Linked DNA regions of Homo sapiens: region 2 is linked to region 1. The links come from fine-mapping of genetic effects on gene expression. A gene starts in region 1. The other region holds a variant in brackets. All regions are shown on one strand. Distances are between the middles of the regions.

Region 1 (4,391 bases):
TGCAAAGTGGAGATTCCCAGATGGCAGTGAGGAGCGCTGGAGAGCATGAGTGCAAGAGGGCTTTGTGCATTGCAAAGTGCTGCATCCGTGTGTGACGGCTTATTATCATTAACCGTTAAAAGCAGCGATGACGGTGATGACGATAATGGTTGCCACTGTCAATCGAGCCACATGAACGCGCTCTGGAAGCTTGGCATCTTTTCAATCCGGCATTTCCTTTTCTTAATCATCCTGGAGAGACTTGGTAGACAGTTGTGTAAATTACCCACCAGCTTAACTCTTCATATTTCATATCATGCTATGGGTTGGGCACCTGATGGACCCATAAGTATCTCATTATACTTGCAAAGTAATTACTGTCAGAGCCTCGCATCAGCGGCATTAAGGGACCAGCTAATGGGAGCTGGAGGTGCCTCTGAGTTCCTCCACAACAGTGATTCCTTCTTAATTGTAGCCTTAGAACAAGATAACTGAGGGACATTGCTAAAGGCAAAGCAGTTTATAAGCAGCATGAGACAGCAAAACACACAGAGACACCAAGTTGAATCCTTCTTGTTGATCTGGTAGAAGAAACTTGGAGGGAAGGTCCCAGAAGGTGTCATAGAGTGGTATTCGACCAGAAAGCTGCCTGTTTTTTTTTTTTATTCCTAAGGGACATCTATTCTACTGTACAGAGGAAGTCTGTGGCATGTGTCAGAAGTGCCTGGGCTGCCCAGGGTCCTAGCAGGACCCGTTTTAACATGCAGGTGGGCATTGAGTGGAGGGTGCCAGGGCCCACCCAGCCAACCCAGCCAAGCCAGCCAACTAGAATTCGAGGAGGTAAGCCAGCTTTTCCAAAGTTCTCAAGTTTGTCCAGGTGAAAAAACACCTGGAAATCAAGGGTTTTTTTCCTAATATTGTAACATGAAAATTTTCAAATATACAGCCGAGTTGAAGGAATTTTACAGTGAATACCAGGGCACCTTCCACCTAGATTCTGCCACTGACATTTTATGAGATTCAGTTGCATTTTGAAGAAATGACAATATGATGAATTAATAAATACAAATAAGAAACTTACAGTTTCTTGTAGGCTTGCGCTCAAATCCAGCCACTTACTAGCTGTGTGTCCTTGGGCACATTGCTTAATGTCTCAGAGCCTTGGTTTTCTCTACAACGAAATGAAAATAAGGACACATACTTCACAGGAGTGATTGTTAGGATGAAAGGGGATGATTACGTAAAACAGTGCAAGAACTGCTACACAGGAGGTCCTCCATAAATAGTACTGTCATGACACACACACCCGAAAGGATAGTCTTTATTCAGTTAGATGCCACATTTTATTAAAGTCTTGTGTGGACAAGAAGTGAAACCTCAGAGGAATTTATGAAGAATAATTGGAGGCACTTCCTTGTGACTTGGCTTCATCCGGACCGGATGACTTCTGGGTGCCAGCAACAGTTCCCCATTTCCATTCACGTTTCCCCACATCGTTCATGCCAAAGAGATGGGTGCCAAGAGGCCATCCGTCTTCATCCTGGACATAGAATGAGACGGGAACTCACTCTTGAAGGACTTTTGAAGTCTCAGAGAAGAAACGGAGCCACCGTAGACCTTTTGAAATACGGCCTGTGAGAAGCACGGTGACAGTCACCATTACTACCAATAATCACATTACTCTTTGTGGGAAAAAAGACCTACTATGTGCCAGGAAGGCTTCGGTAATCATCTCCAACACACACACATTCTCTCACACACACATGTGCGCATGTGTGCACACACACACACACCACACACACACACACACACACTCCGCAGCCCTTCTGCCATGCCCAGCTCAGGGCCATCTTCTCCCACAAGGATGCCGGTCTCATCTCCTGAAATGAGGTTGCAGTGAGCCGAGATTGAGCCACTGCACTCCAGCCTGGGTGACAGAGCGAGACTCCATATAACCTCTGCCTCCTGGGTTCAAGAAACTCTTGTGCCTCAGCCTCCCAAGTAGCTGGGATTACAAGCGCGTACCACCACACCCAGCTAATATTTTTTGTATTTTTTAGTAGAGACAGGGTTTCGTCATGTTGGCCAGGCTGGTCTCGAACTCCCAACCTCAGGTGATCTGCCTGCCTCAGCCTCCCAAAGTGCTGGGATTACAGGCATGAGCCACCGCGCCCGGCCTGATCTCAGTCTTTAAGAGAGCAGCAGCTCATCTGTGGCCACTGCTTCCCAGGGACTTGCCAGAAGGGAGGTGCAGGGCACAGGGAAATAACCCACCTCTATCTGACGGCTTCAATGGTATCGAATGTCCTCAGTGGCAGCACGCAGCACAGAAGCTGAGGTGTGGCTGCATTCCATTTGGAGAATTCCACTGTGATTCATGGTGTCAGCTGCGGGTTCAAGGTGTCACAATTTAATTATTAAACATCATGAGGCATTAGGAGGCTTGGGCACGCACTGATAAGTGATCCATTTCTAACACAGCTGGTTTATTACTGTTTGTGGCAGCTCCTGCACGAATTGGTGTCCGTTAACTAAGCAATGGTATTATAATTACACATTTAAATTATGTATGGGAAGGGTGTCAGTGGTAGAAGTCAGACTGCAGTGATTACTTTCAGTCTTCAGACCTCCTGGATGTAGTCTCTCTGCAGATAGCTGTAACTCTGGCTTGTTTTCTGCTCATTTTCTGCAGACATGTAGAATCCACTGCTAGGGTCCACTGAGCTGTCTTCTGGGTGGTTTTTGGTGCTGCAGGAGATAAACACATGTGTCTTCCTGGTTGGACCCAGTTGATGCACTAACCTAATTCTGTCCTTTGCCTGCCCTGATCTCCATAGCCTGCTTCTTCCTGGAAATTTGCTGCTGCTGCTGCTTCTTTTTTTTTTTTTTTTTTTTGAGACAGGGTCTCGCTCTGTCGCCCAGGCTGGAGTGCAGTGGCGTGATCTCAGCTCACTGCAGTCTCTGCCTCCCGGGGGTTCAAACCATTCTCTCTGCCTCAGCCTCCTGTGTAGTGTGGATTACAGGCACCCCCCACCATGCCCAGCTAATTTTTGTATTTTTAGTAGAGATGGGTTTTCACCGTGTTGGCCAGGCTGGTCTCGAACTCCTGACCTCAGGTGATCCACCCGCCTCGGCCTCCCAAAGTGCTGGGTCTACAGGCGTGAGCCACCGCGCCCGGCCGGAAATGTGCTTCTTTAGAGGAAAGCACCGTTGATCCCACCTCCTTGATCTGGTTTCTAAGACCTCATACAAACTGGGCCCGTTAGTCTTTGCTCCCTGATACTATCTGATACCATCTGGTCTCACTCCTTCCTTCCCATCTTGTTCATTCATTGGTTCACTCATTCATTCACTCACTTCACGCCCTCCCTCTGGTGAATCAGTTCCCCTCTGTCCTCCCCACTCTGTCCAGTCCTCCCCTAGGCTGCCAGGTTACATTTCCAAAACTCCGATCTGATCAGGCCCTCTTGGTCTCAGATCCTCCAAGGGCTTCCTTCAAGGGCTCCTGCACCAACCTCGTGGTGTGGCTGTGTGACATAATAAGAAACATTCACTTCTATTTGGTCTCTTTCCGGGTTCCTGACACAAAGCTCCTAATCCCTTGTCTTTGGTTTAATGAGGTGACTCTCAGTGGCTCCTGGGTGGGGTTGGGGGCTGAGCACCAGAAAGACCCAGATTCGACGAGGAGCCTGGAGCTTTTGGCTCCACCCCCACCCTCCAGGAAAGGGAGAGGGGCTGGAGATTGAGCTAATAATCCATCACGCGTAAGTAATGAAGCCTCCGTAAAAATCCCTGAACTACAGGATCCAGAGAGCTTCTGGGCTGGTGGACACATCCGCATGCTGGGAGGGTGGCGCCCCCCAACTCCACGGGGACAGAAGCTCCTGTGCCCGGGCCCCACCAGAGCTCGCCCTGTGTGCCTCTTCGTCTTCCTGTTCATCTGTATCATCAATAATGTCCTTTACAAGGACATTATTGTCCTTGTGATAATGAATGAGGAAGGAATTATTCCATTCAGGAAGGAATGAGACCAGATGGTATCAGATAGTATCAGGGAGCAAAGACTAATGGGCCCAGTTTGTATAAGGTCTTAGAAACCTATACATGTAACCAAAGTGTTTCCCTGAGTTCTGTGAGCCATTTTAGCCAATTACCAAACCCGAGGAGGGCGTTCTGGGGACCCCTGATGTGTAGCCAAGTCAGACGGAAGTGTGGGTAACCTGAGCGCCCAATCTTTGCAACTGACATCTGAAGTAGGGACGGTCTTGCAGGACGGAGCCCATATCCTCTCGGGCCTGTGCTAACTCTGGGTGGCCAGCGTCAGAATTGAACTGAAGTGTAGGACGCCCAGATGGTGTCTGCAGAGAGCTGGCCGGGCGTGGTGGCTCACGCCTGTAATCCCAGCACTTTGG
Region 2 (4,391 bases), 5.1 kb after region 1:
ACATGAGCCAGCCACTTTGAACCTGACGTTTCATCGTCACGTGAGACTGTAGCTCTCTGAGTCCCACACCCTGGTCACCTTGTCCTGGTTCCTGCACCTTTGAGGGTGAGTTATTCAAGTCAGCCGGTGGAGTAGACGGTGCTCCTGATCATTCCTAAAAGGCAACAGCCTTTTCTGCATTTCTTGCAGGAAAAGTCAGACAGATCTGAGAAGAAATCTCCAGATTCCCCAGAAAGCACTCTCTTGAACATCCTTTCCTGTGCATACACAGCAGGTGTTTAATTCTTGCTCTAGGGAGCAGAGCCCGTCCCAGTGTGAAGAGTGGCTTTGCACACAAGAAACTATTTCTCCATTGTCTCCCTAGATTAGAGAGGCCCCCAGTTGAAACTGCTTCCCCTGAGCCTTCGGTATTAGAAACTGGTAAAACCCCTCCAGAAGCATCGCCCTGGAAACTTGAGCACCTCAACCCCCAAACTCAGATCCCAGCAGAGAAAGCCTTTGGCATCCCAGGACCGAATGCTAACGGCGCTGAGGTCGGGTGAATCCGCTCTGGCCTGTGGTGATGGTGACTTGCTGTTGAGAACCTTAGTGTTTTGAGTGAACAAGAAGAAATCTATTCCAGCATGATTATTCCAATTGGGATTTAGGAGGACTGGGCATTCTCCACATTCCAGTCTTCTTCAGTTCCATGGGCTTAAGAGGGGGCTTATTTTTTTCTTTCTGTGCCACAAAAACTTGGCAGCGATGACTAACCTAGGGTAACATGAGAAAGCTTACTAGGTCGGTCTGTGGCTTTCCTGCTAGCTTTCCTGTTTGTCATACGACAGTGAGACCAATGCCAGCTCATCATGGCACAGAGAGCTTTGGGTGATCTTTGCAGCTGGATGTGAGGCCCAGCTTGGTGGGCTAATGCCCTGGAGAATGGGTACCTTGGGTGTTCAGTGAGAGGCACGGTAGGAGTGGGGTAGGGGTGAGAGGAAAGAGGCATGCGGAGCTCAGAGGTAGAAGCACAGCCTGTTTCTAATAGACATTAAAAAGAAAGGACACTTTTGGCCGGGCGCTGTGGCTCACTCCTGTAATCCCAGCATTTTGGGAGGCCGAGGCGGGCGGATCACCTGAGGTCAGGAGTTCGAGACCAGCCTGGCCAACATGGTGAAACCTCACCTCCGCTAAAAATACAAGAATTAGCCAGGCGTGGTGGCACATGCCTGTAGTCCCAACTACTCAGGAGGCTGAGGCAGGAGAATCACTTGAACCTGGGAGGCAGAGGTTGTAGTTAGCCGAGATCATGCTACTGCACTCCAGCCTGGGTGACAGAGTGAGACCCCATCTCAAAAAAAAAAAGAAAAAAGAAAAAAAAGAAAGAAAAAGAAAGGACATTTCTAACTGGACAGGGATGACCTTCGTTAGAGAAACAGCAGCAACTTGGCCTTCACCAGCCCCAAACAACACTGCCAGGTTGAGATCATTACTACCATTTTGCAGAGGACAAATGTGAGCCTCAGAAACGAAGAAACTCCCCCAGAGTAGGACACGGCCAAGCTGTTTCTTACCCTCCGGCCTCCTGTGCTCTTTCCATGACAAGCAGAAAGAAGAGGCTACCTTTGGTTTAAGGTCTCGATAAACTTTGACACTGTGGAACCAATCCTTCCTCCTTGCAAACAACATTCAGTTCAACTTGGTGAATCTCTATTGACCATTTATTATGTGCAAATGCCTGTATGCATGAAATAAAATTAAAAAATAAAATATGCATGAAATTAAAACAACACACAACAATAACCAGGCATGGACACAAGGCCTAGGAAGGGCTTGGCATGAACACACTAAATCAATTTAGCCGAGGAGACCATTCCCAATATTCTGGAGGGGGCAAGTCTGATATTAACTCCCCGGGGAAAAGAGCCCTTTCCTCGCTTACTCCTGGTAGGACCAAACCCAATATCTAGCACTTTTTACCAACTCTTTCAAGATCCTCCCAGAGAGTTTTTTCATCTGTATCAGTTCTCTCATCTGAAAAGTGAGCCTAATAATTACTACCTTGCAGGAGTTTGGGGAGTATGAAGCAAGATGGTGACTACAAAACGTGGGCACGGTGCCTGGTCCGGAAGAGGAGCTCAGAAAATATCTGTTCCAGTTCTTCTCTTCCTTTCCCAGGCACGTGCCTTTGTGAGTTCTCAGTAAATGTCACCTCACTCTCCTTTTTTAAAAAAATAAAAATTTTTCGGCATGTCTCCTATAACTCAGGTACAGGGCTAGGCCCAGAGATACAGTGATGAATGAGACACAGTGGTGGTTACGGGACTTACCAGCAGGATAACGTGAAGGCTGGCACGGGGTCTTTCAGGCCCAGTAAAAGCAAGTTTCTTTCATTGTTTATTGCAAATTTACTGAACTACGTTTTGTTTTCATCATTTGTGTTTTCTTAATTTTCTCTCAATGCACCAAACTGTTTAAGACAAAGCTCGTTTCAATTTCATAAGAGAAATGAATTCTAGAAGCAGGGTCCAATGAAGTTGGCCATTATTTAACTTCACTAACGTGAATAAAAGCAACCTATGCTTTTAGTATACAAATAATTTTGTAAAAGGTAAAGAGTATCATAATAGAAATCACCCTACACGATAGCCAAAAGGCGGAAGCAACCCAA[T/A]TGTTCACCAATGGACAAACGGATAAACGAAATGTGATCTATGGCCAGGTGCAGTGGCTCATGGCTGTAATCCCAGCATTGTGGGAGGCCAAGGATGGCAGATTTTTTGAGCCCAGGGGTTTGAGCCCAGCCTGGGCAACATGGCAAAATCCTATATCAACCAAAAAAGAAAAAAAAATTAGCTGGATGTGGTGGTGCATGCCTATAGTCCCAGCTACTCAGAAGGCTGAGATGGGAGGACCACTTGAGCCTGGGGGGTGGGAGGTTGCAGTGAGCTGAGATCACGCAGCTGCACTCCAGCCTGGGCAACAGAGCAAGACCCTATTTCAAAAAAACAGAAAACCAGGCCCGGCATGGTGGCTCTTGCCTGTAATCCCGGCACTTTGGGAGGCCGAGGCAGGCAGATCACTTGAGGTCAGGAGTTCAAGACCAGCCTGGGCAACATGGTGAAACCCCATCTCTACTAAAAATATAAAAATTAGCCAGGTGTGGTGGTATGCACCTGTAATTCCAGCTACTTGGGAGGCTGAGGCAGGAGAATCACTTGAATCCCGGGAGGCAGAGGCTGCAATAAGCCGAGATCGCGCCATTGCACTCCAGCCTGGGTGACAGAGTGAGACTCCGTTTCAAAAAAAGAAAAACAAACAAACCCAAAATGTGGTCTGTTCATACAATGGAATATCATTCAGCCCTAAAAAGGAAGGAAATTCGGACACAGACCACAAGATGGATAAATCTTGAGGACATTGTGCTCAGTGAAATAAGAGTCGCAGTCACAAAAGGACGAATACTGTATGATTCCACTCAGATGAGGAATCTAGAGGAGTCAAATTCGTAGAGACAGGAAGCATTCATAGAATGGTGGGTGCCAGGGCCTGGGGCGAGGGGGACAGAGAGCTGGTATTTAATGGGGACTTAGGGAAAATGAGAAAAGTTATGGAGGTGAATGGTGGTGAAGGCTGTACCACGATATGAATGAACTTAGTGCTGCTGAAAATTATACGCTCAAAGATGATTAAAATGGTCAATTTTATCTTATGTATATTTTACCACTTTGAAAAATGTTTAATAAATAAAAATAAATTTTTAAAAAAGGCTGAATGAGGTGGCTTATGCCTGTAATCCTAGCACTTTAGGAGGCCGAGGTAGGAGGATCACCTGAGGTCAGGAGTTCGAGACCAGCCTGGCCAACATGGTGAAACCCAGTCTCCACTAAAACAAAAATTAGCTGGGCGTGGTGGCGGGCGCCTGTAGTCCCAGCTACTCAGGAGGCTGAGGCAGGAGAATCGCTTGAACCCAGGAGGCGGAGGTTGCAGTGAGCCGAGATCACGCCACTGCACGCCAGCCTGGGCAACAGAACAAGACTCTGTCTCAAAAAAAAAAAAAAAAAAGAAAAAAGAAATCACCTGAAAATGAACATTGTAAAACTTCTGTCTTACGGAGAGTTGCCCTAGGCCGATTTCTGCAGTTTCTTTTTCTCAGTAGAGGGCTCCTGTCGCAGCTTCCAGGTTTTCATTTACCTCCCTTCCTACTGAAGTGAGTTGCGCTCCAGGCTTCTCCCAGGAGGCACCCAGAGTGCAAATGCTGCCCAGCTACCAGCTGGAGCTGACACAAGCCTGCTGTAATTTGATGAGCGAGCAAACCCCTGTCCCAGAGCAGGAGTTGAGATCATTCGTGCAACAACAGGACGCAGCCTATTGCTAGCAACTCCTCGTGACCGGCCCCCGCCCCAGCAGCGGCT

Which allele goes with the higher level. Alleles are on the strand shown, and positions count from the first base shown. SD is a standard deviation of normalised expression in the study named.
For the expression in aorta of the gene that starts at base 2,500 in region 1, T is the low allele of the variant in region 2 and A is the other (small effect, 0.24 SD a copy in GTEx).

Evidence for each region.
Region 2: its variant is fine-mapped to the expression of LINC01589 in aorta (GTEx, PIP 0.94).

Annotation. Positions count from the first base shown.
Region 1 is chr22:45,603,148-45,607,538 of GRCh38, forward strand. It overlaps LINC01589 (long intergenic non-protein coding RNA 1589), which reads right to left and starts at 2,500. Exons shown (of 2, transcript NR_131244.1): 1 at 2,254-2,500; 2 at 1,285-1,611.
Region 2 is chr22:45,608,260-45,612,650 of GRCh38, forward strand. No RefSeq gene overlaps it. Among named protein-coding and RNA genes, the nearest start is that of LINC01589, 4.8 kb to the left of the region's middle. The variant T/A (reference allele first, on the strand shown) is at 2,651.